3 linked regions of the Homo sapiens genome follow. The protein of the gene in region 2 interacts with the protein of the main gene of each other region in a pairwise test. Each region holds a gene or a part of one and is shown on either strand. Other genes may lie near its edges. The genes, in order: PPFIA1, DYNC1I2 and DYNLT3.

Region 1 (11,257 bases), on a different chromosome or scaffold from region 2:
CCAGTGTTTGAAAGACTTTGCTCATGGAGTTGAATGAGGATTTACTTAATGGTAGGTAAAGGGAGAAAGTAAAAACTAGAAGAGTGTAAGGTGAGTGGCACGGGGCATAGTGGGAGAGAAGTGGGTTATTTATGTGTTTCAGAGCTGTCTAGGCGCCACGTTACTCATCATAAGTGCCTTTGGGGTGCATTCAGGTAGACCCGCATAAGCACACATTTATACTCGCATGATGGGTCTGCAGTGATAAATTAGTAAATGAATAAGTACTAGCCTTAATGTGTTTCTTGGCTGTAGTCAGTTCTCCTGAAAGATTGATAAGCCAAACGTGGGTTTCCTTTTTAGCAACAATAATTTGACGTTAGCGCTCTATGTTCCTTTTTTGTTGGATTAAAGAATCATTAAGATTTTTCTTATTTCAATCTTATAAATTACCAAGTTTATTTATGTTGAATTTTATTACTACAATTTTAAAAGAAGTAGCCAATTTATGTTTTACCAGGATTTTATTGTATTTGTAATTTAAGGTACACGTATTGAAGTGTATATCAAATACTAATATACTTAATAAGGTAGGTTTTGGAAAGAATGGGCACACAAGACATGTCAGGGAAGTGACAGGAGTTTTGTACAGTTAGTCGCAGGCTGTGGAGGTTGTCACACACACTGGTGACATGGTTGCTCAGTGATTTGTTTCTGGCACTGCTCAGTGTAGCAGCCTGGGAATGCCTAGTTCAGTGGATAACATGATGATGCCAACGGTTCACGTTACCACCTGAGCACCTGATTCCAGCCTTTCAAAAATGGAAACTATTAAGTAAACTTGTTTTGGACCCTTCCCTTTCCTGGCATCTGGTTCATCTTTGGTGGCTGGTAGTGTGACCAGATAATGAGTCCAGGAAGTGCATTTGTGCTCCTGGCACATTGTGGAGGCAAGTTAGAGTGTACTTAAAAATATACATAACTATAGCATACAGCAGAAAAATTCACAAATCGTAAGTATACATCTCAGTGGACTTTTCACAAAGTTAACACACTTGCATACCACCACCCAGATCAAGAAATGGAACATTATCAGGCTTCCTAGAAGTCCCCTCCTAACTATTCCCAGTAGTTGTCCCCCAGAGCTAACCAAGGTCTTGACCTTTCACCATTGATTACTTTTGCCTGTTCTTGACTTTGTTTAAGTGAAGTAAAATAATCTGTATGTTTTGCTTCTTCATTCTGTCGTCAGCATCATGTTTGTGAGATGCAGCTTGCTCATTCTCACCTGCTCTCTGGTCATCCCGTGCACGAACAGACAGAACTTATTCTTTCTACTGCTCACAGACATTTGGGGTTGTTTCCAGTTTTTACACGTGCTCCCCTAATATTGTTTGTTTTTTGGTGCAGATGTCTATAAACTTTTTTTTTTTTGAGATAGGGTCTCACTCTGTTGCCCAGGCTGGAGTGCAGTGGCATGATCTCGGCTCACTGTAGCCTCCACCTCCCAGGTTGAAGCGATTCTCCTGCCTCAGCCTCCCAAGTAGCTGGGAATACAGGCACGCATCACCACCCTCCGCTAATTTTTGTATTTTTTGTAGAGGTGGGGTTTTACCATGTTGCCCAGGCCGGAGGATATGTGTACACTTCTGTTGGATTTCTACAAAGAAGTGGAATGCAAATGATGGTGTGTGCATTTGTTCAGCCTCAGTAGAGAGTGCCAAAAGTGGTGGTTGTGACAGTTTGTACTACCCCAGCAATGTATGAGAAGTCAGTTGCTCCTATGCTCTTCAGCACTTGGTATTGTTGGGTCTTTACATTTTAGCTGTTCTGGTGGCTGTTAGCTGGTAGGTGGCTCAGTATGGTCTGAATTTGCTGCTCCCTGATGGCCAGGAACATGCAGAGGTAAAGCATCTCTACCTGTGTTCACTGGCCACCTGGATGTCTTTTGTGAAACGGTTATCTTTTGCCCATCTGTTGATTGGGTTGTCTGTTTTGTTTTTTACTGATTTGAAGGAGTTTTCTCTATATTCTGAGTACATATGTGCATGACAGATTGTTTTTAGACTCTTGTGTTTGCCTTTTCACTCTCTCAGTTGTATCTTTTGATACATAGAAGTGTAAAATTTTTAATGTAGCCCAGTTGATCCATCTTTTCAGTAATGTTTAATGCTCTTTGTGTCCTGTTTAAGAAATTTGCTTGGTCAAGTTCATGAGATATTCTACATTGTCTTCTAAAAACTATTTTTTAATCTTCCATCTGAAATTGACTTTGTTTATGGTATGCGATGGGGCCAAGAGTCTCTCTTTCTTTTTTTAAATGGATATCTAGTTGACCTTGCATAATTTCTTAAAAGACTATTCTTTCCCCAGTGTACTACATGCAGTGTCATCTCAGTCCAGTGACTGTAAGTGTGTGGGTCTGTTTCTGGACTCTCTTCTGCTCCTTTGATCTTTTTGTCATCTTTGCACAAATAGCACAATGTCTAAATTCCCATAGATATAGTCTGTCTTGAGATCTGGTAATTTAAGAAAAGGGTACTCACTCGGTTGCCCAGACTAGTCTCCAACTCCTGGTGTCAAGCGATCCTCTCACCTTGGTCTCCCAAAGTGCTGGGATTACCACTGTGAGCCACCACACCTGGCCCTGTAGATATTCTTTATCAAAATGTAAAAATTCTCCTCTTCTTAGTTTGCCAAGAGTTTTTTAAAAACCATGAGCAGGTATTAAATTTCTTAACATGGATTTTCTGCATCTTTTGAGACAGTCATGTGATTTTTCTGTTATGTGGGAATTTAACTGTTTTTGTTTGTTTATTTTTGAGATGGGGTCTTGCTCCATTACCCAGCCCGGAGTGCAGTGGCACCATCATAGCTCGCTGTAGCCTTGAACTCCTGGGCTAAAGTGATCTTCCCACCTCAGCCTCTCAAGTAGTTGGAATTATAGACGCACGCCACTGCGCCTTGCTTTTTTTTTTTTTTTTAATTGCATATTGTTTGTAGCCTGGGGAAGCAACTTCAGGAGCTCCTGAGAAAGAGCACCTCCCTTTTAAAAAAAATTTACAATTGTAGAATAATTCCAACCTGATCTTGATGTATTCTCCTTTTACTGGATTATATTTGGTAGTATTTTGTTTAGGATTATTGCATTTATATTCACGAGAAAGATTGACTTATAATTTCAGTTTCCTTCAGTACCCTTGTTGGGATTTGGTATCAAGGTTATGCTGGTTTCTTAAAACAAGGTGGAATGTATTCCTTCTTTTTCTACTCCCTAGAAGAGTTCCTACGAAATTTGTGTTTTCTTCCTTAAATGTTTGAAATAATTCTTTGGCAAAACCAGCTGGTACAGGGTTTTCCTTGTGAGAAGGAAAAATTTTAGAATTAATTTTATAGGTAGATGTAGGATTTTGAATATTTCTTCATGTGTCTATTTAGATAAAGCATTTTTCCCCGCTAGAGATTTGTTCAGGCCACCCAGACTTTCCAATTTGTAAGTTTAAAGTGGTTTGTAATCCTTATTATCTGCAAGATCTGTAGTGATGTTCCCTTTTAATAATTCTTGATATCAGTAATTCATATATTATCTCTTAATCAGTCTTGTTGGGGGTTTGTCAATTTTGTAAGTTCTTTTAAGGGACCAACTTTCGGCTTTACATTTTTTTCTACTTACATTTGTTTTCTATTGCATTAATTTCTACTTTTTTTTTTTTGCTTTTTTTTTGTTTGATTGAGATATATATATATATATATATATATTTTTTTTTTTCCAGGCACAGTCTCATTGTGTCTCCCAGGGTCAAGTCCTTAGATACTTGAACTGGATTTAACTCCCTCCTACCTTTTGTGTCATTGTTTTATATATTTCAGTTTAATTTATATTTATTTTTAAAAATAGAGACAGCGTCTTGCTGTATTGCCCCAGCTGGTCTTCAACTCCTGGCCTCAGGTGATCCTCCCCCCTTAGCCTCCCAAAACAATGGGATCCAGGCGTGAGCCACTACACGCTTTTAGCTGCATCTTACAAGTTTATGTACTTTAATTTTAGATATACTTTTGCAGTATCATAATTATTTTGTACAGTTAATGTTTATTTAGATTTATCCTCTTAGTTACCATTTTTGTTGCTCTTCATTCTTTATTGTTGTTTCATGTTTCTGCCGGGGATTATATTTCTTGTTTTTTTTTTTTCTTTTTTTCTTTTTTGAGACAGAGTCTCGCTCTGTTGCCCAGGCTGAAGTGCAGTGGCACGATCTTGGCGCACTGCAACCTCCATCTCCCATGTTTGAGCGATTTTCTTGCCTCAGCCTTCTGAGTAGCTGGGACTATAGGCATATGCCACCACATCCGGCTAATTGTTGTATTTTTAGTAGAGACTGGGTTTCACCATGTTGGCCAGGCTGGTCTCAAGCTCCTGACCTCAAGTGATCTGCCTGCTTCAGCCTCCAAAGTGCTGGGATTACAGATGTGAGCCACTGCGCCCAGCCTATATTTCTTTTCCCTGAAGAACTTTCTACGGTATTTCTTTGAGTTCATATCTGTGGATAATGAATTGTCATTTTTGTTTGCCTGAAAATTTTCTATTTTGCCTTTAGTTTTTGTTTTGTTTTGTTTTGTTTTGTTTTTTAAGATGGAGTCTCGCTCTGTCGCCGGTCTGGAGTGCAGTGATGTGATCTTGGCTCACTGCAACCACCGCCTCCCGGGTTCAAGCAATTCTCCTGCCTCAGCCGCCCGAGTAGCTGGAACTACAAGCACGTGCCACCACGCCCAGCTAATTTTTGTATTTTTAGTAGAGAAGGTGTTTCACCATGTTGGCCAGGATGGTCTCTATCTGTTGACCTGGTGATCTGCCCTCGTCAGCCTCCCAAAGTGCTGGGATTACAGGCGTGAGCCACCATGCCTGGCCTTTTTTTTTTTAAATGTGATGTTTCACCATGTTTGCCAGGCTGGGGTCAAACTCATTGGCTCAAGCAGCTGCCTGCCTCAGCCTCCCAAACTGCTGGGATTACAGGTGTGAGCCACTGTGCCCAATTTGCCTTCAGTTTTGAAGGATGATTTTGCTGGGTATAGAATACTGGGATCGTGGTCATTTCCTTGCACCATTTTGTAGCAGCGAATTCATTGTTTTTTTAGCTCGCTTCCTTTTTCTTGACAAGTCAGCTTTTGGTGTTATTGTTGTCCCATTTGAAGTAATACTTCTTTTTATTTTCCCCTCTGGTTGCTTTTTATTTTTATTTTTTGGAGAGGATATGACTTTTACTGAGTTTATCCACCAGAGTGGAAATAATGTTTGTGCAAAACCAAATGTTTGTTACTATAACTCTCCATCACAATTAAAATCCAAACAGTTTTTTGAAAACAGTCAACTCAATCAAAACCCACTACTTCAGAATCAATAGCTTCTTTGAAGCCACAGTAACAAATATGGTTAAGACTTGAATGTAGAAATTTGTTGGTTGGAAAGCTAATTAAACTTCCAACTTGCTCAAGTAGAATTACAGAAAGGCAGAATTGTGTTTTTCACAGAGATATAGTTCACTGGAATCAGCCACACTGGACAGCTGGTAGAGTGTTTAGGGTCCTGAGATAATAAGGAATCCAGGCAGCCTTTAGACAGTCTGCTGTTGTCCTTTCTTCCCAATTAGAGATTTGTGGATGTGTGGAATGACACCTTTACCAGCAATTGTAGACTTGAAGAGAGAGCCCAATTCTTTATCTCCACGAATGGCAAGTTGCAAGTAATGAGGGGTAGTATGCTTTACTGTGAAGTCTTTTGACGCATTTCTTGCCAGTTCAAGTACCTCTGCGGTGAGGTACTCCAGGATGGCTGTGCTATTCACAGCGGCAGTCGCGCCCACACGTCCAGGACTGATTGTCCTAGATTTCAGGTGTCAGTGAATACGGCCCACCAGGAACTGCAAATTGGCTCTCTTGTGAGTGGGAAGCTGCCTTTGTTGGCCTTTCTGGAGTCCTTCCCAGCCTTACTGCCAGCCATTTTCAATTCTGCTGAAGCTCAAACAGGCAAGGCAGAGAAAGGACTAATCAGACACACAGCAAGATCTCACCATCTACTCATTCCTCACACCAGGATTTGAAGCTGCCTCTGGTGGCTTGTAACATTTTCTTTGCTTCAGGCATTAGCAAAACTTGGTATTTGTTGTATTGGTGGCCTGGTTCCTAATCAATTTTGGAAGTTTTGGCTCTTCTCTCTATAAATATTCCTATTTTCCACTCATCTTCACTCAGAGGGCCTCCATTTTTGTGTACATTAGGCATTTTTTTTTTTTTTGAGATGGAGTTTCGCTATTGTTGCCCAAGTTGGAGTGCAATGGTGTGATATACATTAGGCTTTTATCATGTCCTATGTGTCTCTTGTGCTCCTTTCCGTATTTTCTAGACCTTTTCTGTGTATGTGTCTAGGTGTGTGTGTGTGTGTGTGTGTGTGTGTGTGTGTGTGTGTATTTAGTTTTTAGAGACTGGGTCTCTCTGTTGCCCAGGGTGGTCTTGAACTCTTGGGCTCAAGCAGTCTTCCTGCCTTGGCCTCCTAAACTGTTGGGACTACAGGCGTGAGCCACCGTGTCCGGCCTGTGTGTGTGTGGGGGATGTGTGTGTGTGTATATTTTTGGGACAGGGTCTCGCTCTGTTGCCCAGGCTGTAGTGTAGTGGTGCAGTCTCAGCTCACTGCAGCATCTGCCTTCTGGGCTCAAGCGATCCTCCCACCTCAGCTCCTGAGTAGCAGGGACTACAGGTGCGTGCCACCACACCTGGCTAATTTCTGTATTTTCAGTGGAGGTGGGGTTTTGCCATGTTGCACAGACTGGTCTCAAACTCCTGGACTTAAGTGATCCACTTGCCTCAGTCTCCGAAAGTGTTGGGATTACAGGCATGAGCTAGCATGTGTGTATATATGTGTGTATATATATATACGTACATACATATATATATATAAATATATATGTATATAAAAATTTTTAAGAGACAGGTGGCTGGGTGCAGTGGCTCACGCCTGTAATCCCAGCACTTTGGGAGGCCAAGGTGGGTGAATCACTTGAAGTCAGGAGTTCGAGACCAGCCTGGCCAACATGGTGAAACCCTGTCTCTACTAAAAATACAAAAAATAGCCGGGCATGGTGGCACATGCCTGTAATCCCAGCTACTTGGGAGGCTGAGGCAGGAGACTCACTTGAACCTGGGAGACGGAGGTTGCAGTGAGCCAAGATCACGCCATTGCACTCCAGCCTGGGTGGCAAGAGCGAAACTCCGTCTCGGGGAAAAAGAAAAAGACAGGCACCCTGTTGTTGCCGAGGCTGCAGTGCAGTGGCGCGCGTGATCACTGTTCACTGCAGCCTCAAACTCCAGGGCTCAAGCAATCCTTCTGCCTCAGCCTTCTGAGTAGCTGGGACTATAGGTATGTGCCACTGTGCCCAGCTAATTTTTAAATTTTTTGTAGAGGCAGGGTCTTGCTATTTTGCCCAAGCTGTTCTTAAACTCCTGACCTCAAGTGAGCCTCCTACCTTGACATGTCAAAGCACTGGGATTACAGGTGTGAGCTATTGTGCCCAAAATCTAAAGTCCAGATTTTTTTTACTGACCCATCTTCCACCTCACTCATCCCCTCTTCATTTGTGTCCAATCTGCTGTTTAGCCCATAGATTGAGTTCTTAATTTCAGTTATAATTTTCAGTTCTAGAGTCTGCTTAATTCCTTTTACTATTCTAGTTCTCTAGTGAAATTTTTTCCTTTTGTCAAGTATATTTTTGAATAGTTGACATTTGCATCTGATAACTCTATTATATGGGTCACCTCCGGATCCATTTCTGTTTTTCTTTTTTCTCTAGGTTCATTTGTTGATAACGCCCATTTTTGTTTTTTTAATTGAGTCAGACATTATGTATGAAAAACTGTAGAAAGCGCTGGGTGATGCTGTCTTCCTTCAGAAAGTTTCCCTCTGTCATCTGGCACATGCCCAGAGTAGGGACAGATCATCTCAGCTCAGTCAGGGCCTGGGTGACCAGAGGCTGGGATTCAGTCAGTAAGCGTCAGTTGAAGCTGCCTTCCCCCAACCTCCTGCTCCTGGTGTAACCATCCGGGGGTTCCATCTGAAACCCTGGAGTGTTTCCCAGGGCCCCTCTTTCTTGGCGTGTCCTGGAGCCCAAGTTTTGTCTCCTTAACGCCATGAGACTACTGAAAGCCCAGCTTCTCGGCCAGGTTTGCAGAGTGTTGGGCTCATTTCCTGTGTCTCCCTTTTCTCTGGGATCTTGGCCCCTTAAGTCCTGGCTGACTGTCAGGCCTGTACTTCTTTTTGTCTCCCCAGACCCTTGGGGCTTTCTAGAGCTCTGTAGCCTCTACTTTCTGCTGAGTTTTCTTCCCAGTTATCAGTGTACTGCCCCCAAATCCTTCCAAATTGTCAAATGCACTGACAGAAAGAGTGGGGGCTCTGAATAGTGGACTCACCTCAGTGGGCCTCTCTTTGGTTTGGAATGTTGGTCCCTTCATTTGTGGCTGCCTTGGCATCTCTTTGATGCCTGCAGACTTTCAAGTCATACTCACCTTTTCTAGTTTTTGGTGGGTTGCCGGGCTACAGGCCACCCCGCGTATCACTGAAACTGGAGCTGAAGCGGGCGTGCTCTCTCTGTCTGCAGCATATGCGGAGTCTGGAGACATTGGTTATCATTACTTGATAGGGAGCATACAGAACCCACTCACCTCGCTTAGGCTACCTTGTCCAGTTTCTTTTTTTTTTTTCCAGTCTGCTTCTCATGACATTGTCCAGTTTCTAATCAGAATCCCCCATTTGCCCCTGCCCAGTCACTTAACCACTTAAAGACAGTAGAGCAAGTGGCCTGCCCAGCGGGAGACACAGCCCTTGGCCTCCAATTCCCGTCTTGGCCACTGTGTGGGCTGTTCCACCCTGCTGTAGTCTCTACTCTTCCCCATGCCCTGTGTCAGACCGAGGGAGGGTTTGTGATGACATATCTGGCAGTGGCAAAGAAGGAGGCTAGGGAGGTAGGAGAGGTTGTGTGCGTGGTGTTTAGTCTTACTTTGGAGATGGGGTCTTGCTGTGTTGCCTAGGCTGATCTCCAACTCCAGGGCTCAAGCCATCCTTCTGCCTTGGCTTCCTGAGTAGCTACCACTACAGGCATGAACCAGTGTGCCCAGCTACCTAATGTTTATTCTATGACTTGATCCCATGTATGTTTCCTTTTTGAGTGCTGATTTTTTTTTTTTTTTTTTTTTTTTTTTTGAGATGGAGTCTTGCTCTGTCACCCAGGCTGGAGTGCAGTGGCGTGATCTCGGCTCACTGCAAGCTCCACCCCCTGGGTTCACACCATTCTTCTGCCTCAGCCTCCCCAGTAGCTGGGACTACAGGTGCCCGCCACTACATCCAGCTAGTTTTTGTTTTGTATTTTTAGTAGAGACAGGGTTTCACCATGTTAGCCAGAATGGTCGCGATCTCCTGACCTCATGATCCACTGCATGCCTTGGCCTCCCAAAGTGCTGGGATTACAGGCGTGAGCCACCGTGCCTGGCTTTTTTTTTTTTTTTTTTTTTTTAAGAAGGAATTTTGCTCTTGTCGCCCAGGCTGGAGTGCAATGGTGCGATCTCAGCTCACTGCAACCTCCATGTCCCAGGTTCAAGCGATTCTCTTGCCTCAGCCTCCTGAGTAGCTGGGACCATAGGCGTGCATCACCATGCCCGGCTGATTTTTGTATTTTTAGTAGAGACGGGGTTTCACCATGTTGGTCAGGCTAGTCTTGAACTTCTGACCTCAGGTGATCTGCCCGCCTCAGCCTCCCACAGTGCTGGGATTACAGGCATGAGCCATCATGCCTGACCGACTGACCGAGTGCTTTTTTTTTTTTTTAAAGCAAATATTGCCTTTGGGCTTCTCTCTAATTTCATTTTAAAGTTTCAGTTGCATTTTCAAATGGAGATTTTATTTTAAACTGGAGTGCAGTGATTTTTACAGTCTTTTTGAAAGCAACAAATGAGATTTTTAGAAGACCTCTTGCTTGAAGAACTCTTTTGTGTGAAACCTAGAAGAGAGACTGTTCACCTTTCATTGCAGGTGAGGTCCCAAATTTTGCCAGTCTCTCTCCCAATCTGCCAATCCCTGAAGCAGGGGGTACAAAACTCAGAAGATTCTAAGGAATGAGGTCTTCAAATCAAATCCAAACTTAGTGAAAAAGAAGTCTACCTGTGTCAGGGGTGTTCCCTGTCAAAGTGATGGGTGAGCTTCAGCTGGTTGCAGTGGAAGGTGTGCTGGATGGATTGAGGAGGCGAGAGGGTGCAAGACAGCCCATTTAGGAGGCAGTTCCTGCAATGTGGGCATGAAGTGTTACAGCCCAAACTAGGATGCTAGAATCCGAGGGCAGAGGGCAGTAGAAAAGAACAACCTGGCGGAATTGTGTAGGACTAGAGGATGACAGCCGAGTGGCAGATACCAGGGTCAAGCTTGCGGGGAGAAGGGGGACGGGGGTGGGGGAGAGTAAAGAGGAGACGCTGGTGTTTGGTGGTGTTGAGAGGTATTTGTGGTTGTCACAGCTAGGGCAGGGATGCTCCTAAACATTCTGCAGTGGAGCCCCCTCAACAAAGAATTATCTGGCCCCAAATGTTGGAAGTGTCCAGGTTTAGGTATAAAGAATCAGAAGCTTTTCTCAAGTATTGCTGTTAGGTTGGTGCAAAAGTACTTGCGGATTTTGCTTTACTTTTAATGGCAAAAACCGCAATTATTTTTGCTTCAACCTAATATGATGCAAAATTGGCTACAACTGTAATTTGTTGAGTGCTGCAAACAAGGTACTTGCTAAGCTTAACTTTAGTGAACAAATTAGGAAGAATTGGAATAAGGTAAAACTAGCTAAATGACTCTTCCCTGAGAATAAATACTAATGACTGCCCCTTCAGATGGTGCCCCCTCATCTGCTTTACTGACTGTTTCTTAGTAGTAGTTGGCAAAACACCTCTTAAAATACCATACTTGTTTTCATCGTCTTTGGTGTATGAAATAGTTGAATATATCCTTTCAGAATAATATTTGGCCATTTACATCTCTCTTTTGCACACACTGAATTTGCCATCTTGTCTTCCTGTTCCTACACCTTTAATTGTCAGCAAGGAGACAGAGTCCTTCCTCCTATTTTGTTGAGCCCTGTGTGAATATTACCGTTCTAGGCTCCTGCAGTCAGTGGTAGAGACAGGGTCTCTGCCTGCAGAAGACTTTCACAATATACCCATGCTCAAAGCAGGTGCAGGTTGCGAGACACATCCAGATAGA
Region 2 (8,447 bases):
GCCTAGGCTGGAGTGCAGTGGTGTGATTTCAGCTCACTGCAGCCTCGACATCCTGGGCTCAAACCATCCACCCATCTCAGCCCCCAGGGTGGCTGAGACTATAGGTGCATGCCACCATGCTCAGCTAATTTTTGTATTTTTTGTGGAGATGGGGTTTTGCCATGTTGCCAAGCTGGTCTCAAACTCCTGAGCTCATGTGATCCACCCACCTTGGCTTCTCAAAGTGCTGGGATTACAGGCATGAGCCATGGCACCTGGGCCAGCTTTATTCTTTTGCATATGTATATCTAGTTTTCCCAGCACCATTTCTTGAAAAGACTATTCCTTTCCTATCTAATTTTCTTGACACCACAATAACTTTTATGGAATCTGACTGAGATCCTTTTCTTTGCTATTGTCTACTAGTGAAATGAATTTTTGTGTATTTTTAGGAGGGAGGGAATGGGCAAGGATAACTTTCCTAGTTCATTTTCTAGGTTAAAGCTGTCTCTTCTCTGGCTTTTGCAAAGTGAGAATACATGTACCTTGTGCTTTCTGAGATGTGCCTTTTCTGCTTCTCTCCACCACTTCTGTCTGAACTTACTGCTTTGTCTCTTTTGTCTGGCATTCTACAACTTGGATTCTACTCCCAGCAGTTTCTCTTCTGTGAGACTTTGTCTTGGAAAGGAACTTTGATTTGTTAATTTTGAGAGTTTATAGCACCCAGACTGTACCATGAGAACTTACTTATACTGCACTGTAGTCTGCTTGCATTTACAGTTGACCCTTGAATAATGCAGGGCTTAGGGGTGCCAACGCCTATCCCAGCAGTTCAAAATCCACATATAACTTCTGACTTCCAAAAAACTTAACTACTAATAGCCTACTACTGACCAGAAACCTTTCTGACAACATAAATTGTTGATTAACACATATTTTTTATGTTATATGTATTATATACTGTCATCTTAAGGGCAAGCTAAAGAAATGAAGATGTTAAGAAAATCATAAAGAAGAGAAAATATATTTACTATGCATTAAGTGGATGTGGATCATCATAAAGGTCTTCATCCTTATCATCTTCACAGTTGAGTAGGCTGAGGAGGAAAAGAAAGAGGAAGGGTTGGTTGTGCTGTCCCAGGGGTGGCAGAGGCAGAAGAAAATATGAGTATAAGTGGATCTCTGCAGTTCAAACCTATATGGTTCAAGGGTCAAATGTATTTATAAATGGAATTGTGCCAAACTGCCCCCTAGTTTTTGCTGCTGTTCTCAGATTAGCCCACCACACTGTCCAGTGAGCATCTGCTATGACTGTGAGGTTCTGTTCTCCACCTGTCAGAAGTTCTCGTGCCTTCCTTCATCTTCTTCCCACACAGATACTGATACCATGCAAGTCTTGTAGTTGTGAGAGGTTTGTTTCCACCTGATTTTATTTGGAAGTTTGTCTCCTGATTCTGCTGTAGATGCTGTCTGTGAATCTTTGCTCTTCCTGCCCTCATTGCTTTATCTGAGTTTATGGGGAGAACTAGAGGAGATTTAAAAAGTACACTGCTATTGCTGTTATCTTCCCAGAATCTTCTCATTGACAGATGTTCTTGAAGCATGTTCTATTTCTTTTTTTAAACAGTATGGCATCTACAAGTTAAAAAGAAAATGCAATCAATAGTTGATTCTTAGTTTACAATACCAGGTAATTCTGTAGTGAAACAAATTGTAGGAACTTTTTCTAGGCTGAGTTAAATATCATAAAATGTTATCATACCTGTTGAATGTATGTCATTTTTTTCCCAGTGATAAGTAGTTTAATGATTTGTATGTCATATATGGACTGTGCTAAGAATCAACTTTTCTCTTTCAGAATAACAAGCCTTTGTATTCATTTGAAGATAATGCAGACTATGTTTATGATGTTATGTGGTCACCTACCCACCCAGCCCTGTTTGCCTGTGTGGATGGCATGGGGAGATTGGATTTGTGGAATCTCAATAATGACACAGAGGTGAGCAGGAAAATAACAAAAATTGCATTGAAAAATAGAAAATTGGATATTTATTGAATAATTTGTGAAATTCCTTTTTTTCCAAAGAATGTAAAAGGGTTCTGTGATTGTAGATTCATCACAAAGAACTCAAATAAGCTTTGTACCCTAAATAATAAACAGCATGCTGCGAAGAACTAAAGGGAGAAATAATGTTGCCAGGAGCACTGGGGCATTTCCTTTTACTTCTGAAAAGCACTATCATGTCTCTAATGTCCTGGCAAAGTCTCATTCATAAGATAACTGGGATGTTTTTCATTCATAAGCTAGAAAGCAGATAGTTTCAGACTGTTGAAGTATGTTAACCTTAATTCTGAATTTCTAAATTATCTCTTAGCCTTGATAGCATTGTATATCATCCATAAACATTAATCTTAGCCTGATTTGTTTGAAGGAAGGAAAAATATATTTTGATTTTTGATGAGTTTTTTCTATGAAGGATTGAAAACAGAGTGTTACTATAAAATGAATATAGAAACTATCAGATTTCCTAATTGCTGTACTAAAATCACTTATTAGCCATTAAATTTAATTGCAACTCTTATTTATTTTTAGTCACATGTATTTTTACCAGCTTAGAGAAGCTTAAAAATGTTCTTAGAATTCTATTCTATATTGCTATTAGTAATATAATTAATATTAGCATTTCTGTCAATAACAATTGTTGAGAGAGTCAACTCAGATCTCCCACATCTCTTCCTAGTTAGCTAGAATGGTACCAATTCTGTTTTCTTAATTTGGATTTTAGTCTTAGAGATTTGAAGTTACAATTAAATGTGGATTGAAATTTAATATTTCTTTATAACAATTTTGGTATTCTGTGTATGGGGTTAAATTATTTGGGGATGACTAGTACAAATTAGAAGGATTTTTTTGTCAAATTTCAAAATTTTTTAAAAATTTTATCATACTTTTAGTCTGAATCCAAACACTGAATGTTTGCTCCATGTGTAGCAAATAAAACTCTTCTTCCTTAGCAAAGAAGAGGCACAGTCAGATTCCAGGGAGCTGGTGCCATTGTGTTGGTGCCATCATCCTGGCTATCTCCAGCTAGCTCATGGAACAAGAGGCTTTAGACAGACTCATACTGCACCTTCAGTATGAACCGTTTCTAGGAACACTGAGTCAAATACAGGTTTCAGCTGATAGAGATACATGCTGCACAAGTGATTCTTGTCCTTTACAACTGAACCATAATCTGCTTATGAGGGCTTTTGAAGTGTTTTCTTTTTAAATGGGTTTTGGCCATGTGTTTTCAAACAGCTTGACTTCTTAAAGACATTAAAACAACAAAAAAGGATTCTTTATTCAAGAGAAGACCTTTCAAAATAATGTGTCTAGTCTTCTGAGAATTTTTTATACAAAGACTTATTTTCCCAAACCATTTTCAAGGATCGACTATAATGTCATTCATAATATATCACTGAAGAAGAAGAAAGTTGGGGAAATTCTTACCTGTTTTCATCTTTGTTTTTAAAAATGTAGCCAGCTTGAGAGAAGAATTACTGTTTTACATGTTTATAGAAATCTTGATGAAACTTTTAACACTGTCCTTTATTTTAAATGACTTTAGGTACCAACTGCCAGCATTTCTGTGGAGGGTAATCCTGCTCTTAATCGTGTGAGATGGACCCATTCTGGCAGAGAGATTGCTGTGGGTGATTCTGAAGGACAGATTGTTATATACGATGTGGGAGAGGTATGGGACTCCCTGCCTGTAATTTTGACACATCGATTTAGTTGCATTGTAGTAAAGGCATCTTTGTGGCTAACCCTAGGCTTTGAGGTTTATGAGTTGTTTAAACTATATGGTTGTAAAGATAAAACTTACTTTCTACCACAGAAGCAGCTCTTGAAACATTTTCTTTCTAAACCGAATGTTCTGTTTCCCATGCAACAGATTTTGAGGGTAATACAATAAATACATTGAAAATACCTTGTTTCTTGAAGCATGCATTGCTGGAAATTAGAAATTCTTTGGGGAGAAGTTTGGAGTTATAGGTGGACTTTGGGGTTTTATTGATATTGAAATAAGATTTATTTTTCTGTATTCATTAATTTGGGCCAGGTAGTAGAAACCAAAAGTAGTATCTTTTGAGAACCATCTGTGACTTTATGCAATGTGCATCTTGACTCTTAAGCCTTGATGCAAAGCCACAGTAATGGAATCCAATAGGATGAGCTGCAGCTCTCTCATCTTTGCTGCTCTGATTGGCTGAACACAAAGCCCAGGATGGATTTCCTCTTTTTTAACCCTGGCTAGGGGTTAAAAAAGTGACCTTAGTCACTTTCCTTTGCTATGCCTCATGATTTCTCTCCTCTCTGGATATCCCATGGCCTCTAGCAATTGGATCTGGTGGGAGGTAGATTTAATCATTTACAGCAGCCAATTAAACTATCTGCACAAATGGAAATGTTCTGTACCTGCACTAATATGGTAGCTTCTAGCCACATATGGCTATTGAACACTCTAAGTGTTGCTACTACAACTGCGTAACTGAATTTTTAATTTTAATTAATTTTAATATACACAGTCACATGTGGCCAGTAGCTACCCTACTGGATAGTGTAGATTTATAAACAGGCACAGCCATTTGCCACAGTGAGTGGTTTGTGCCCTAACATGACAGTGTCAGACTCCTATGATATTATAATGGCAGTTATCAAAAATATTTGTTATTGGGGCCGGGCGCAGTGGCTCACACCTGTAATCCCAGCACTTTGGGAGGATGAGGCGGGTGGATCACCTGAGGTCAGGAGTTCGAGACCAGCCTGGCCAACATGGCAAAACCCCATCTCTACTGAAAATACAAAAATTAGCCAGGCATGGTGGCACATACCTGTAATCCCAGCTACTGGGGAGGCTGAGGCAGGAGAATCACTTGAACCTGGGAGGCAGAGGTTACAGTGAGCCAAGATAGTGCCACTGCACTCCAGCCTGGGCAACAGAGTGGGACTGTCTCAAAAAAAAAAAAAAATTATATATATATATATATATATATATGTTATTGGGCTGCCTCTGAAGTAAAGCATCACAAGGCTCTTTTGCCACCAGTGCAGCACTAAAGTGGTAAATAGTAGCACAGCTTTTGATGAAGGAGTTAAGGTATCAAGAAAGATTACCTTATGTTCCAAAGAAAAATACTTACAAGAAACGAGCCCCCTTATGAACCATGCTTCAAACACTGTTTCTTACTAGGAATTTTGCAAGAATACAGTAAAAAAAAAATTTTAAGGAATTCCTCTCCAGCAAAATCCATGAGATGGTGCATAGGAGTTATATTTACAAAGCATCATTGTTATTCTCTCTTGCATTGGTGGTGATAATAGCCAAGTCATTTCTGAGGCTGTCACAACACACTTCACAAACACCGTCTTTTGTTTTGAAATGTTGTAAATCATTGTTATAGTCCCCGTAATTATGGAAAGGCCATTCAGGTCAATTATTACTTTTTAACAGAAAAATTATTTGAAAACAAACTGAATAATAGTGGGTAAAATGATCTTTTATTTCATTGTATATAAAACATTGTCTTTCTTTTAACAGCAGATTGCTGTTCCCCGCAATGATGAATGGGCACGGTTTGGCCGAACACTTGCAGAAATTAATGCAAACCGAGCTGATGCAGAGGAGGAAGCAGCTACCCGAATACCTGCTTAGTTCCTGAAAAGGGGAGTGTAACTAGTGGATTTGGGAAAGGTTCTTAAGTAGATCCTGAGACTATTTGCATGCTTCTGTCTAAATGATAATTAAAAGGAAATTTCATGGATTAAACCATGGGTTTAATGCAGCAAGGAAACTTACAATGTCCCTTTATATATAACATGCATCTTGTTTTGGATTTGTGTCATTTTTTAATATAGCTGATTGACTTCACAGAAAGCAGCTTTTTTGAATTCTAATACATAGGTGTATATTTGGTATTAGTTATTTTGAGTTCTTTTCAACTTATAACACTGTATACAGTTATTTCTAAAGCACAGATGAAATAAGTTCTGCATATTTTTAAATAATCACAGTTCCCTGTTATACAGATAATGTTCTCACTACCCATAATATGTAGGAACATTGTTTCTCCTTAGCCGTAGTATGCATACACCTATCCATGTTCATTCTGACATCCTTTGTTGTCTTTATAATTCATGTGGTAGTTACCTATAAATAAAAACAAATATGCGTTAACTTTTCAAATTTTCATTTTTACTCCTTACAACTTGAATTTTTCCATCTTTTATAAAATATATTTTTTCCATATCTTTCTTTAAGCTCCTGCTGTGAGCAGCCATCTCAAATCCTATAGAGCTGTGTACCCTAAATATACCATGTGGTATATACTATAGATCTCCCAGTGCATTATGAATTGATGTCTAGATAATCTGTTGGTGAAAAAATTTCCCCTAGGTTAACTTTTGCTTTACTACTTTATATTCTTTCCATCTAAGACATATTTCCTTTAAAGGATAAATAGAAAGCTGCCTATAATTTTCACTGATTAAGAACTATGTATGTGACCTCACTGAGAGTAAAATCTTTGAGAGAAATTGATTTCATGATTTCAGTAGCCATAAAGGCAAAGTGCTCAAATGGACCCATACTTTGGCATTAAAATCTACATCTTGAGATCTGTTGCCACAGCATTGTCTACAAGTCCGAAAGGTAGGTGACAAATATCTAAGAATCAGTATTGAAATCAGTGAATTTCAGGAATAGAGGAAAGGACTATGATCAGATCTTGATTTTATCTACTTTAAATTGTCTATTTATTTGATCCCAACCTTTTGTACTTCTGAAGTGTAACTGTCTTTTATTCAACAGAACATGAACTAGGAAGAGAGATTAGAAAACAGAATGTGAACATTTTTCTTTTAATAATTGTAACAAAGATTTGTTGGGAGAGAAATTTCCAAATAATGAGTAGTGTATAGTGTAAGGAATAATTGACCTGGAATTATTGGCCCCAAACTCTGATTCTTGCTGAAGCATCTATGAGAAGTGTGATTTTAGCCAAGTCTGTGCCGCATTCTTTATATGTAGGAATTAAGTTTTGATTTAATGATTTCTGAATTTTCTTTCAGCTCTACTCAATTAAGGGGTATCAGTATGTGAAATGGAATATAGAAAAGTAGGCAATTCTTTACTTTTCTATATTCAGTTTCATAAATTAATACCCCATAATTGCCCATTATATACCAAAGACAATATCTCAAGTTATCTCATTGTAGCAGTGTCTGTGAGTCAAAACTTCAATTTTAGTAGAGTCACACTTTCTTTATATAGAAAAATTCATGTACTCACTACTCATGTAGTTACTGTATCTTTACCTTCAGTTTGTAAAAATGACTAAAAGTAGGGAAAACAAGTGTTAAAACATAATGGATAAGAAAAGGTTGGAAATCATATGGCAAATCACATGTTCCTCAGCCTCAAGGTGTGTTTAGTTGTGAAAGAAAGAATAAAATTGTTTAAATATTTCACTTTTTGGGAATGACTTCTCCCCTACTCCCCCAGAAAATGCGATGTATACCTTTGCCCATTCAACTTTAGTCCATATTTTTAGGAACACACAAATTTACTTTAAGGAATTACCTTTAAAGTTGACTATATAATAGCAAAAGAGAAAGTATTGAGACTGTCAGTGTTGATAAAGCTTCTAGCAAGATTAGGTTGACTAGAAGTGCATCACAGTTCTTTATACTTTTAGAACTAAAAGCCTTATAATTTTGAAAAATATCCAGTTACAGAAATTGTACCTTATCAGTTATACTTTTTTTCTGAGTAAGAAAACAAGCTATAGCTTTCTGGTTAATTTCTTATTTTTCGTTGTTTGGTTTTTGTCTTTTTGAGTGGAACGTTAAAGTTTATTACCTTCATGTTAAGGAATATCCAGCTTCACAGACAATTAACTTGCAATAAATCTCTGAAATAATCATTTTTTGGTATTATTTAAACCAAATATGCATTGGTAGAAGCTTTCTTCCTGTTTACAGATCCAGCTCCCTATAAAGTTTAGAAAATCTCTTTGTATAAAATGTTGTTACAATAATGCTGAAATACTGCATCTCAAAGGAATGGATGACTTAAAATTTAGTGGGAGGAACTATAGGAAAGTCGTTTTAGGAATGATTGGTCCTAGTCTTTCAGTGTTGTTAAAATGTTTTAGTCTGTTCTGTACTAGTGTGGATAGACTAATATCCACCCCTTGAACCATACAGAAAGACTTGAATGGATGAGTGAAAATCTGCTGTGAAGCATATCATACTATCTTTGCTTTATATTGAGTAGTGCATTACTTTTAAGTCAGAAAGCCAGTAGGTTTTTTTGTTTGTTTGTTTTTCCCTAAAGCGCTGCCATAAATTTCAGTGGTCACCTGCCACTCACTGGGCGGTGTATTTTTAAATGTCTTTTCCACAACCCCAGTATTTCAACATT
Region 3 (11,560 bases), on a different chromosome or scaffold from region 2:
CACCTGATTAAAAGCACTGGCTCTAGTATCACAATCCTAGGTTTTAAGGCCTACTTTGACACCTATCTGCTATGTGACCTTTAGCAAGTGACTTAACCCCTTCAAATCCCTATTTTCCTAATCCTTATAGTAAGGATAACAGCATCATCTTATCAGGTTGTTGTTAGGATGAAATGAGACAATGAATACCAAGTGCTCAAACAGGACTAGCACAGAGTTAGCATATAAATAATGTTAACTACTATTATCATATTGCTGCTGTTATATTTTATATTTGAGTGATAAAGCCTGGATAATAAAGCACTCATTTAATTCATTTTTAGAATCTAACACACACATGCAGCTTCATTTACTATCATTAGACTCATTTAATTCATTTTTAGAATCTAGCTTAATAATACACACATACACACACATGCAGCTTTATTTACTATAATTAGACCACAGTAAAGATTTATGAAGGCACTAATACAAAATCTTAAGTTGGATAGTATAAAATCTTCACTAATGATAAAATATGAAAAGAGAAATGAAATATTTTAGCAAGGTTGACAAAAGTAATATGGCTCAAATTTTTCTCCTAGAAAGCTCAATAACATGACAAAGTAGGAAGGGTAGTGGCTTAAGGATCAGGGGAATAGAATTTTAATTCTGGCTTTACCATTCCTAAGCTGGTGACCTTTGGACAAACCTATTCCTCTCTTGAGATCACCTTTCCTTAAGGATAAAGTAAGAGCACTCATTTTTCTTTCAGGTTATTTAGTAGGACCACTCCAAGTTTTGCTCTAAACAGCAGAAAACACCATGGGGTGTGGGTGCCACTGTAAATAGCCCTGCTAATTACTATTAATTAACATCTAGCCTAATTAATTACATTAACATGGAGGCCCATGAGACAATGAGGTCCTTAAACAGCTCTGTATTCTCAGTGCTAAACTCAGGACCTGGGCACTTAGCAGGTATTCAACAAATGTTGTTGAAGCAATATTGGTTTTGATATACTCGCTGGGTATCTTAAATCAAATACACTTTAGACTAAATTCTAAGTCATTTGTAGCTCACTTTTTCTTCGACGATTTTTTGGGGAAGCAATTTCTATTACTAACACTAAAGAAAATGTATGCATATTACTGATAAATGGGTGTCTCTGAGTTCAGAAGGAAAAACATATTAGCATAGGGGCTCAGAGCAAGAAATCAAAGGAAAGAAAATAAGATCAATAAGAAAATAAGATCAGTAAGGAAATCAGAAATAACTGCTGAAATTATGTAATCATCTAGGAAGTGCTAAACTGTTTTAAAATGTTGCTCATTCTCAGGCATTTCCAATGTCTCAATGGAAATGTTTCAATGGCAGAAGAGGGTTGGTTCATGGGAAGAGGAAAGATAGACATTTAGCTGCAAGTAACCTGTAGCAAAGCTGAGTTTCTTTGCAGTCTCATATTTCATATAAAAATTCAAGAGAAGCTTGTTTTGACTACATAATGCATCAGAGTTTGTTTTTATTCAAAAATGTTTTCAGTTATATTATTTATATTACTTAACTCCCTCTCACAAATATTCAAGAAAAACTGATGTTCTAAAATGCATCCAGTGACTTCTAGCACCACCTAGCCACTGCCGAGTATGTATTTCCCAGTTGAAAAAGCATGATTCTTTTAATTTGATATAATATTAAAGTAACAGGCATATGGTTTGAAAAATCCAGTAGAACAGAAAAGCTTAGAATGAAGAGTTTCCTTCCCACCCTTTCCTTTCCCATCCCCAGTCCCATTCCCCAGAGGAAACTCATCAGTGTACAACTGTTTTTATTTCTTCCAAGGGTTACTTATGTATCTCCAAATAATGTTTATCTCACTATTTCCTGATTTATGAATTATAGGCAACATCCATGTAACTCCTACTATGATAGATGAAAATTTGGTTCCCTCAGACCACCCGCCCCCTTCTCTCAATATAGTGAAATCACGATTTTTTAACTTAAATATATTTACACTGTTAGAAACATGTTTCTTTTCCACTCTGGATGTTTTCTTCAACGCAGAGGATTGTTCTTTAACATTCCTGGCCTCTTGTCCTGTCAGTTATTCCTCCCCATGGAGGTGGAATGAGTTACCTGGTTGGTGGGTGATAACCATTGTTCTAACATCTCATTTGGGAGTCTCCCAAATGTGTTGAACTTGGGCTTTAGTTTCTCCTTCCCTCTCCACCCAAACCAATGAAAGGCACCAGCCTGAACAAGTGTTTCTCTCTGCTGACTCAAACTTTCTCTTGGATGACTCTTCCCAGGGCTGAACTGAATGGGAGTTAGCAAAACAAGGTACAATCATCAAACTGGTTTTTATCAATAATAAAGGTGGTATTTTGTTCTCTTTCTAATGGCTCTTTTTTCTTTTCATTTGGTTCAGAACTTAAGGAAGAAGGCACTATTTAAATGGAATCCCAAATAGCCCAGCATTCTTTCTTTTATGTTCCATCAACCAAGGACAGTCTTTCCTGACTTGCCACTTTGAAAACTAAGATCACTCCCTTCTCATTACCTCCACTCCCTCTTCCACCTCCCAGTTTCCCTCATTTGTGCTTTTACATTGTAAAGGTATTAAAAACCTTTGCTTTCTACTTTTAATAATTAAATACTCTCAGGCTACATAGATAGAATGCATAATTCTGAAGTATTCAAATATGGCAGGATTTTCAGGTGCCTGTCTATTCCTCTCAGACCTTGAGTTAATTCTAGCTGTGTAAGGCCAGACCTGGGTGTCAAAAAATACCTTTCCCACACTGTGGTCTGTATGTGATACCTCTAAAATAATGAACGGTCCCCTGCCAGAATTAATTCCCAAAGGTAATTTCTTTTCTATTTGCCTAAAAGGAGTTTCAAATATTTTTCTTAAAATTTTGATTCACTATCATATCAATGCTTAAAATATGTTAAATGATCATTTTTTCCAATTATATTGGGCAAAAAAGTGTACATGCCCAAAGGCAGATATTTCTAGGGCTTTTGTTATCTATTTTATACAATATACATATATATTATACATATACTTTACATTATAAAAGTTGACGTGTGTACATATATATGCGTACATATACTTTATAGCATTAACATTTAAAATAATGTTTGCTTTCTGGAATAAAAGTTATTTTATCCAAAAGACAGGGCATCAATTTTAAACCAGTTTTCTAGACTAAGAAAATCCTTAAGCATCTCTTTCAGAATAAGCCTCAAGATGCTGATAGCACACAACAAAATATAGAAGGACCCCTATAAAGAGTTAGTGGATAAATATTTAAAATCTTGTTCTTGGCCGGGTGTGGTGGTTCACGCCTGCAATCCCAGCACTTTGGGAGGCCAAGGCGGGTGGATCACCGGAGGTCAGGAATTCGAAACCAGCCTGACCAATAAGGTGAAACCCCGTCTCTACTAAAAATACAAAAATTGGATGGGTGTGGTGGCGGGCGCCTGTAGACCCAGCTACTCGGGAGGCTGAGACAGGAGAATTGCTTGAACCCAGGAGGTGGAGGTTGCAGTGAGCTGAGATCACACCACTGTTCTCCAGCATGGGTGACAGAGCGAGACTCCATCTCAAAAAACAATAAAATAAAATAAAACAAAACAAAATATTCTTCTTTTAACAGTAAGGTTTCTAAGTTTGTGCTGAAACTCAAAATATAGCTTTTAAAAATCTCCACCAGTGCAGCAAGCTTCAAGAGAAACAAAATGTATGACTCACCTCTTTGACAATATTGTGGGCTTCCTCAGCATTGAAGCCAACCTAAAGGGAAAACAAAAGGTAAAGCTGCTTTCAACACAGGCTTACAAGTATGACGCTACACAGAATATCCTAGGCTGGCCTAGACAGGTGTTAAAGTGTTAAAGGGCATCAGGTCTACAGAAGGGGCCAATCTTGCCCCTAAACACTTAAAAATACTGAATGCTTTCCCTACCTACCTCCCGTGAGGTCTGGGGCAGAGCCTGCAAGTCTACATTTTTTTTTAAAAAAGTGCTTTATACTGGTGATTCTAATGAACATCCTAGATTAAGAATCATTGTATTGTAAAACGTAGGAAATAAGCAAGAGGTGACTATGAGGATGTTATGTGTCATAAGAATATAGAAATGGTTTCAGCTAAGTGAGAGAATGAAGTGGTCCATATGAAGAGAATGCTTAGTAGACTATTTTCAATTTTGTTTTTAACTTATGCTAGGCAAAAATTTCTAGGCAAAAATTCCTTTCCCAAATTAAAGATTATGAAAATACTTGATAACTCAAGATTAATATCACTTTAGTACTATAAAGTGGTCTGACAACTTAGTCTTTTCTTTGGAGTCCCCATCAATAACAGGGAGATAACAACTGACATCATGGGTTTCTGGTGAGGGTTGGGAAAGCCTGAGTCAGTAAGCAAGGGCTCGTAATCCATAAAGCACCTCCTTGCCTAATCCTGGCAAGCATTACCGGGAGCGGGAATGGCAGTGCCACCAGGACCCCGAGACTCCGAGCCATGGGGGCTGCAGCACCCGCGCTGAGGAAGCCAAGGGACGGAGGCAGCAGCGGGAAGACCCGTTTTCGAGGCCCGCCCGGTAGGAGGGCGGCGCCCGTCACCCCATGCCCACTCCTCGCACCCAAGTCAGGCCTCGTCCTCCCAACCCTGCCCCGACCCCACCGTCTGATCCGCGCGCTCCTGGCCACCCCTCCCACCCCGAATCTCAGGACTTTGGGGTGGGGAGAACGGGTCGGGCGGGGCGGATCCCGGGCCCAGGGGAGAGGACCCGGGCTCGGAGGACGCCGCACCCCAACTCTTGGGACCGCCCTCGCTGGGAGACCACCCGGCAAGAGCCCCGCGCAGAGGAAGGCGGGAGTGGGGGGCGCTCCCAGGTAGCCAAGGGGCGGTACCTCGTCGCAGTGGCGATGGTACTCCTCCATGGTAGCGCCGGCTCTCCCTGGGGCGGAGCGACACGCCGGTAGAGCACCGCGGCCGCGCACTGGCCTCCGGGGAGGCCCCACCCCCGTTTATGGCCTAGGGCCTTTCCCTACGCAATCCCCGCCTTTGTGTCGCAGTGGCGTCACCTGGCAGCGCTGGGCGGGCTTCGGGCAACGCCAGGCGTCACTTCAGGCCACGCACTTTTTCCTCGCTTCCTCTGCCCTTTCTGGAAACAAGGGATGAATGTAAAGAACTGGGAATGGCGCCAGTGTGGATCAGATGGGGTGACCTAGTGGCAGTTAGTCTAGACTCCGCACTAGTGGTTGAGTGCCCACTGCTGTGATTACTTGCACGTATTTGTTCATTCACCATCATGTGGCACATAAATGTAGTTAATTTCGTGGTAAACCAGCCACTTTGATTTGTCCACTTACTAGCTATGTTACTTGGAAAAATTCACCTCCCACAGCTTCAGTTTTCTCATATGGAAACTTACCATCATACCTATTTCACTACTGGTTGTAAGGATCTGATGAGAAGCTGTATACACGGCTCCTAAAGTAGATGCTTCTCAACAAGAGAACAATGACTACATTTTAAAATAAATGTAGTAATTTTAAATTAGTAATTTTAAAATAAATGTAGTAATTTTAAATTAGTAATTTTAAAATAAATTACTAATTTCCAGATGATCCTAGACACTTCCTCAAAACCTCACAATAAGTCAGAGGAGTTAGTTCTTCCATCACTGCTTTTATCAAGATGAAACTGAGGTATAGAGAATTTAATTTGCCCAAGGTCATACAGCCAGTAGGGTGTAGAAAAGGGACTTGAGCTCAAGTAGTCTGATAGCAGAGCCCAAGCTCTTAACCACTGTATTACTTTCCTATTGCTACTGTAACAAATTACCGTAAATGTAGTGCCTTAAAGAAACACAGTCCTGTTCTCTTACAGTTCTGTTACCAGTGTAGGGTGTCCAGGTTCTTGGCTCTTTGAACAAAGAATTGGACAAAACGCACAAACAAAGCAAGGAAAGAATGAAGCAACAAAAGCAGAGATTTATTGAAAACGAAAGTACACTCTACAGGGTGGGAGCGGGCAGAGAAGCCGCTCAAGGGCCGGGATCCAGAATCTTCTCTGGTCCAAATACCCCCTAGAGATTTCCCATTGGCCACTTGGTGTGCACCCCATGTAAATGAAGTAGTGGCCCACAATCAGAGGCTGAAGTTACAAAGGCCACACTCCTATGCAAACGTCTGATTGGTTGCAAGAAAGCAACCATCAGAGGCTAAAGTGAAGTTACAAAGTTGCACTTCTATTCAAACAAAGATTTGGCCCATAATCAGTTTGATTGGTTGCAGACAGCAACCAATCAGAGGCTGAAGTGAAGTTACAAAGTTCCACTCCTGTGCAAATGTCTGATTGGTTGCTTTTTGCTCTTTGGTTGCAAAAAGCAACCAATCAGAGGTACTTTAAATTTCCCATCTGCCCTGCAGAAAAGGTGGGGATTTGCAAAGGGAATAGCCTCTGGTCCTTTTGTTACTTAGGCATGGAAGGTATGGAAGGTTAGGGTTTTCCTTTTTTTTTTTTTTTTGAGACGGAGTTTCACTCTTGCTGCCCAGGCCGGAGTGCAATGGCGCGATCTCGGCTCACCCACGGCAACCTCCGCCTCTCGGGTTCAAGCGATTCTCCTGCCTCAGCCTTCTGAGTAGCTGAGATTACAGGCATGCACCACCACGCCCAGCTAATTTTGTATTTTTAGTAGAGACGGGGTTTCTCCATGTTGGTCAGGTTGGTTTCGAACTCCCGACTTCATCGACCTCAAGTGATCTGCCTGCCTCAGCCTCCCAAAGTGCTGGGATTACAGGCGTGAGCCACTGTGCCTGGCCAGGGTTTTCCTTTCAATTTAGTTCTATGAAGTAAGCGTGAAACAGTTTTAAGTTCCCTGCCTCCTGACCCTATTCTCCTGCCTCAGTTCTGGAGGTCAGAAGTCTAAAATGGGCCCATAGAGCTGCATGCCTTCTGGAGGCTCCAAGACAGACTCTGTTTCTTTGCCTTTTCCAGCTTCTAGAGATTGCCTGCATTCCTTGGCTCATGACCCCTTCCTCCAAATTCAAAGCCAGTAGTATCTTTTCTCCTCTCTCGCTTCTGCTTCAAAGGAAGTGTGAGGCATCTCTATAAACGAGAGATGTATGACTCTTGCCCTCCTGTTTCCCTCTCAAGACCCTTAACTTAATCACATATGCCATGTGTCTTTTGCACTCTGTATCATATTCACAGATTCTCAGAATTCAGATGTGGACAAATTTGAGGGGGAGCATTATTCAGCCAACCACAACACTTTTCTATTTTGCTCCCCAGAATCAAAGTTGGAAACCATTAGTCTTCTAGTCCATCTCCCTTATTTTACAAGTAAAACTGAAGCTGAGAAGATAAAGTAACTTCTACAGGGCACATAGGTGTTAACTGGACTCCTGGGCTTCTGAACCTCAGGCTCTTATTTTATGAACTTAGAACCAAACAAGGCTGTTTACTTGATAGTATGGTGTTTGTTATTGGTTCTCCTAAGTTGTGGATCATGCAGGGTTACTGCAGAAAAGTGACTGTAATTCATAGAGGAAGCACATCCTCTTTCAAGAATTTTTTTTACCAAAGTTTTCATCCTATGAGCAACTCCGGCAGTCTATTCATGAGAAGGATTCGTAGTGTCTTTGTGAACATCAGTTTTATTTCCCTAAAGAACTGTTTCTATGCCTGGGTGGGTTAAACCCTGAAGTTACCTAATCTTAATACTGCAAGAGCTACACCAGCACATCTCAAGTTTGTGTTATGTGATCATTCATGATGCATATAAAGTGAGATGAAGAAGTGTTGTTCCAGTTACCATTCCTGTGTAATAAATTACCCCAGAATTTAGCAGCTTATTTACTATATTATGCTCATGGATTCGTTTAGTCAGAAATTTGAACAAGGCACAGCAGAAATAATTTGCCTCTGCTCTGTGATGTCTGGGGCCTCAGGTGGGGAGACTCAAAGACTGGAGGAAATTCAATGGTGGGGACCAGAATCATCTGAAGACTTGTTCATTCACATGTCTGATATCTGGGCTTGGATGAATAAAATATTAGCACTTCCAACTGGAGCAACAACACATGGCCCCACCGAGTGGATTGGCTTCTTACCATCATGGCAACCTTAGGGTAGCCAGATCTTTTACATGGCAACTCAAGGCTCCAAGCATGAGGGTTCCATCGAGCATGGCAGAAGATATGTCACCTTTTATCACCTAGTGTCACGAGTTACACAGCAGCCCTTCTACCATACTCTAATCATTGAAACATTCACTCAGATTCAAGGGGAGGGGACACATAATCCACTTCTCAATGGGAGAAGTGTCAAATAATTTGGGGCTCATGCTTTAAAACTACAAGTGGGTTTATTAACTAGCATCCTGTGGTTGCAAGTAACAGAAGACCCAAATAGGATGAGCTGAAATAATGGCATTTATTTTTTTATATAACCAGACTGATATGGTTTGGATCTGTCCCCAGCAAATCTCATGTTGAATTGTAATCCCCAGTGTTGGAGGTGGAGCCTGGTGGGAGGTGATTGGATCATGGAGGCAGATTTCTCATGATGGGTAGCACCATCCCCTCAGTGCTGTTCTTGTGAGAGTAAGTGAGTGAGTTATTATGAGATCTGGCTGCTTAAAAGTGTGTAGCACCTCCCTCCTCTCTCTCTTCTTCCTGTTCTAGCCATGTAATATGTGCCTGCTTCCCCTTCACCTTCCACCATGATTGTAAGTTTCCTGAGGCCTCCCCAGAAGCAGGAGTCACTCTGCTTCCTGTGCAGCTTGCAGAACCACGAGCCAACTAAGCCTCTTTACTTCATAAATTATCCAGTCTCAGGTATTTCTCATTGCTGTAAAGCAATGAGAGAATAGACTAATACACAGACATACAGAGGCAGAGATATTCCAGGTTCGTTTAGTTGCTCAACAAATTTTGGGGCTTCTGTGCTTTTCATCTTTCCATGCCAATATCCTCAGCATGTCAGCAACATTTAGCCTCATGGTCATACACGGCTGCATTAGTTCTGGTATCGCTAGGAACAAAGATATCACGTTCAGTGACTAAGATGAGCATTTTCTGGGGTTGATCGGATTTTCTTAGGAAAGAAAATCTTTATTTCAAGTCCTCAGGAGTTTTCTCCTCAGGTTCCAGTGGCCAAGATTGGGCCACGTGACTCCCCACCGGGCAAAACATATGGGACAACAAATGTTTGTTTTTTCATTCTGTATGGTGAAAAGTGAGTTCTGCCAGCAAGAAAAAAAAAATTGATATAAAGTAAATGTTGGTAGGTCAGTCCTTTCCAAACTTTTCCATGCTATGGCCCACATAGAGGATAATACTTACATGGTACATTGAGGTAAACTGGAGGGGCTTGGTGGGCATCTGTATGGGGCTTGGTGAAAAAATATTTTCATTACTTTATATAATTATATGAAAAAATAAAATAGAAAGGGTGTTAAAATTGAATTTTTTAAAGCTTCCAAATAAAACCTCTTTCAATGCTTTAGTGAGACCCTCAATCTTGGTTTCACCCATATAATATTTTATATCTGGCTCTACGCATTGAACAGCCATAAGCAATTCCTGTTAATGAGTTTTTAATAATTAATTTTCCCTAAATATGAATAAATTATATTGTCTAGAAAGGTTTGCCATAGAAGCAGCTGATAAAAAACATTTGGACCCACTTTACAAACCACTAAAATTATATTTAAAGACTTCTGTAATGGTAGACTATGTAATTAGGACCATCTCTTTCACTGATAATTACAAAGGTTGGACAAAATATAATAGACATTTGCTCAAGGGAATTGGATTTTTTAACAAGATAGGGAAGAATTATGGATCTAAGACATAGAATAATGAAACCCAGAAAGATGAGCATGGCATTTGGGATAACTTTTTACCTCGAGGTGAGAAGATGTTAAGCCTTTTGCTTATGGGCCAAGGGGTAAAATAATCAGACTGCATGTCCTGCCAAGGAAGATGATTCTGGTAAACAGTCTTGCTTTGGGTTGAAACCCCATGGATTAAACCCTGGGAGTGAAACACTCAAACTTGATCTTGCAGACTGAATCTCAGTTTTAAATTACCCAAACCCCTAAAATTGAATTAAGGTGATCCGGAATTGCTAATGCCTCTAGCCAACTTCTAGAAGCCAATGTAAATTCTCTCTGAAGGAAGAAAACATTATCTTAGGTCTCAAATCAGACATATGATTTTTTGCATACATCAAGTGGACAATAAAATATAACTAGACACATAACGAGACAAAACAACATTATCTTAAATCAAAAGACAATGGAAACAGCCCAATCAGGGATGAAGATGATGGAGTTATCAGAAATAGACTTTAAAATAACTATGCTTACTATATTAAAAGAGATAAAAGACAGGGTTGAGAATTTCATCCAATAACTTGAAATTATAAAAAGTATACAAATGGAATTTCTAGAAGTAGAAAATACAGTAACCAATTTTTTAAAAAGAACAAAGAATCGATTCTATAGTGGTTCCTACAAAGCTGAAGATTAAGTGAAGCTTAAAAAATTGGACAGAATAGACCGGGGCGCAGTGGCTCACGCCTATAATCCGAGCACTTTGGGAGGCCAAGGGGGGCAGATCATGAGGTTAGGAGATCGAGACCATCCTGACTAACATGGTGAAATCCCGTCTCTACTAAAAATACAAAAAAATTAGCCAGGCGTGGTGGTGGGCACCTGTAGTCCCAGCTACTCGGGATGCTGAGGCGGGAGAATGGCTTGAACCCAGGAGGCAGAGCTTGCAGTGAGCTGAGATCATGCCACTGCACTCAAGCCTGTGTGACAGAGTGAGACTTTCTCTCAGAAAAAAAAAAATGGACAGAATAAAATAGCCAGAGTAAAGCACAGAGACATAAATTAATGTAAAATACAGAAGAAAGCATACAGACAAAAGTAATACCATGAGAAAGTTTAACATACATAGTGAGATTTCCAGAAGGAGATGAGACAGAATGGACAGAAACAATATTTAATGAAATATTAGCTGAAGGTCTTCCAAAACTGATGAAAGAACATATTAGTCAGAGTCTCTGTAGGAAGCAGATGAAACTCCCAAAATATTAATTCAGGGAGGATTTATTTACAATGCTGTGTGCTGGGATGGTGGATATAGCAGATCTATAAGGAATAGGTTCAGGAATCCAGTATAGCCTATCACTTTTCTCCATCAATATCCATCCACTTGCCCAGCTACAGAGGCAAGGACTATAGCAACTATTCTGTGTTACTTCATCCCCTCTCCCTTTTACCTCCACTGATCATAGCTAATGTTTTTGATTGCAGGTGGTTGTGTGACCAACTTAAATGCTATAATAGATGATGCACCTCCTCTATATGTCAAGCAGCACATTTTGTGCTCTACATCTACTATATTTCCAGGGACTCTGTGATTACAGTTCCAATTAATGTCAACAATGTCATGGATCAATGTGATGTGGTACAGCTCTAAGATATGAGGGACTCCCTTAAATCTGACGTGGAGGTCTTCTAGTTTTTTATTATTATTATTTATTTATTT

Evidence for each region.
Region 1: the proteins of DYNC1I2 (region 2) and PPFIA1 interact in binary tests that used the Homo sapiens proteins (3 or more experiments, as listed by UniProt).
Region 3: the proteins of DYNC1I2 (region 2) and DYNLT3 interact in binary tests that used the Homo sapiens proteins (3 or more experiments, as listed by UniProt).

What each region holds. Positions count from the first base shown.
Region 1 is NC_000011.10:70,273,324-70,284,580, forward strand, and holds part of PPFIA1 (liprin-alpha-1), read left to right. Parts: intron 1-5,291; exon of another isoform or gene 5,292-6,080; intron 6,081-10,631; exon of another isoform or gene 10,632-10,747; intron 10,748-11,257. UniProt on the Homo sapiens protein: May regulate the disassembly of focal adhesions. May localize receptor-like tyrosine phosphatases type 2A at specific sites on the plasma membrane, possibly regulating their interaction with the extracellular environment and their association with substrates.
Region 2 is NC_000002.12:171,742,212-171,750,658, forward strand, and holds the end of DYNC1I2 (cytoplasmic dynein 1 intermediate chain 2), read left to right. Parts: intron 1-1,837; coding exon 1,838-1,978; intron 1,979-3,590; coding exon 3,591-3,716; intron 3,717-5,564; coding exon 5,565-5,678; 3' UTR 5,679-7,947; downstream 7,948-8,447. UniProt on the Homo sapiens protein: Acts as one of several non-catalytic accessory components of the cytoplasmic dynein 1 complex that are thought to be involved in linking dynein to cargos and to adapter proteins that regulate dynein function.
Region 3 is NC_000023.11:37,842,581-37,854,140, forward strand, and holds the start of DYNLT3 (dynein light chain Tctex-type 3), read right to left. Parts: upstream 4,992-11,560; 5' UTR 4,931-4,991; coding exon 4,901-4,930; intron 3,779-4,900; coding exon 3,737-3,778; intron 1-3,736. UniProt on the Homo sapiens protein: Acts as one of several non-catalytic accessory components of the cytoplasmic dynein 1 complex that are thought to be involved in linking dynein to cargos and to adapter proteins that regulate dynein function.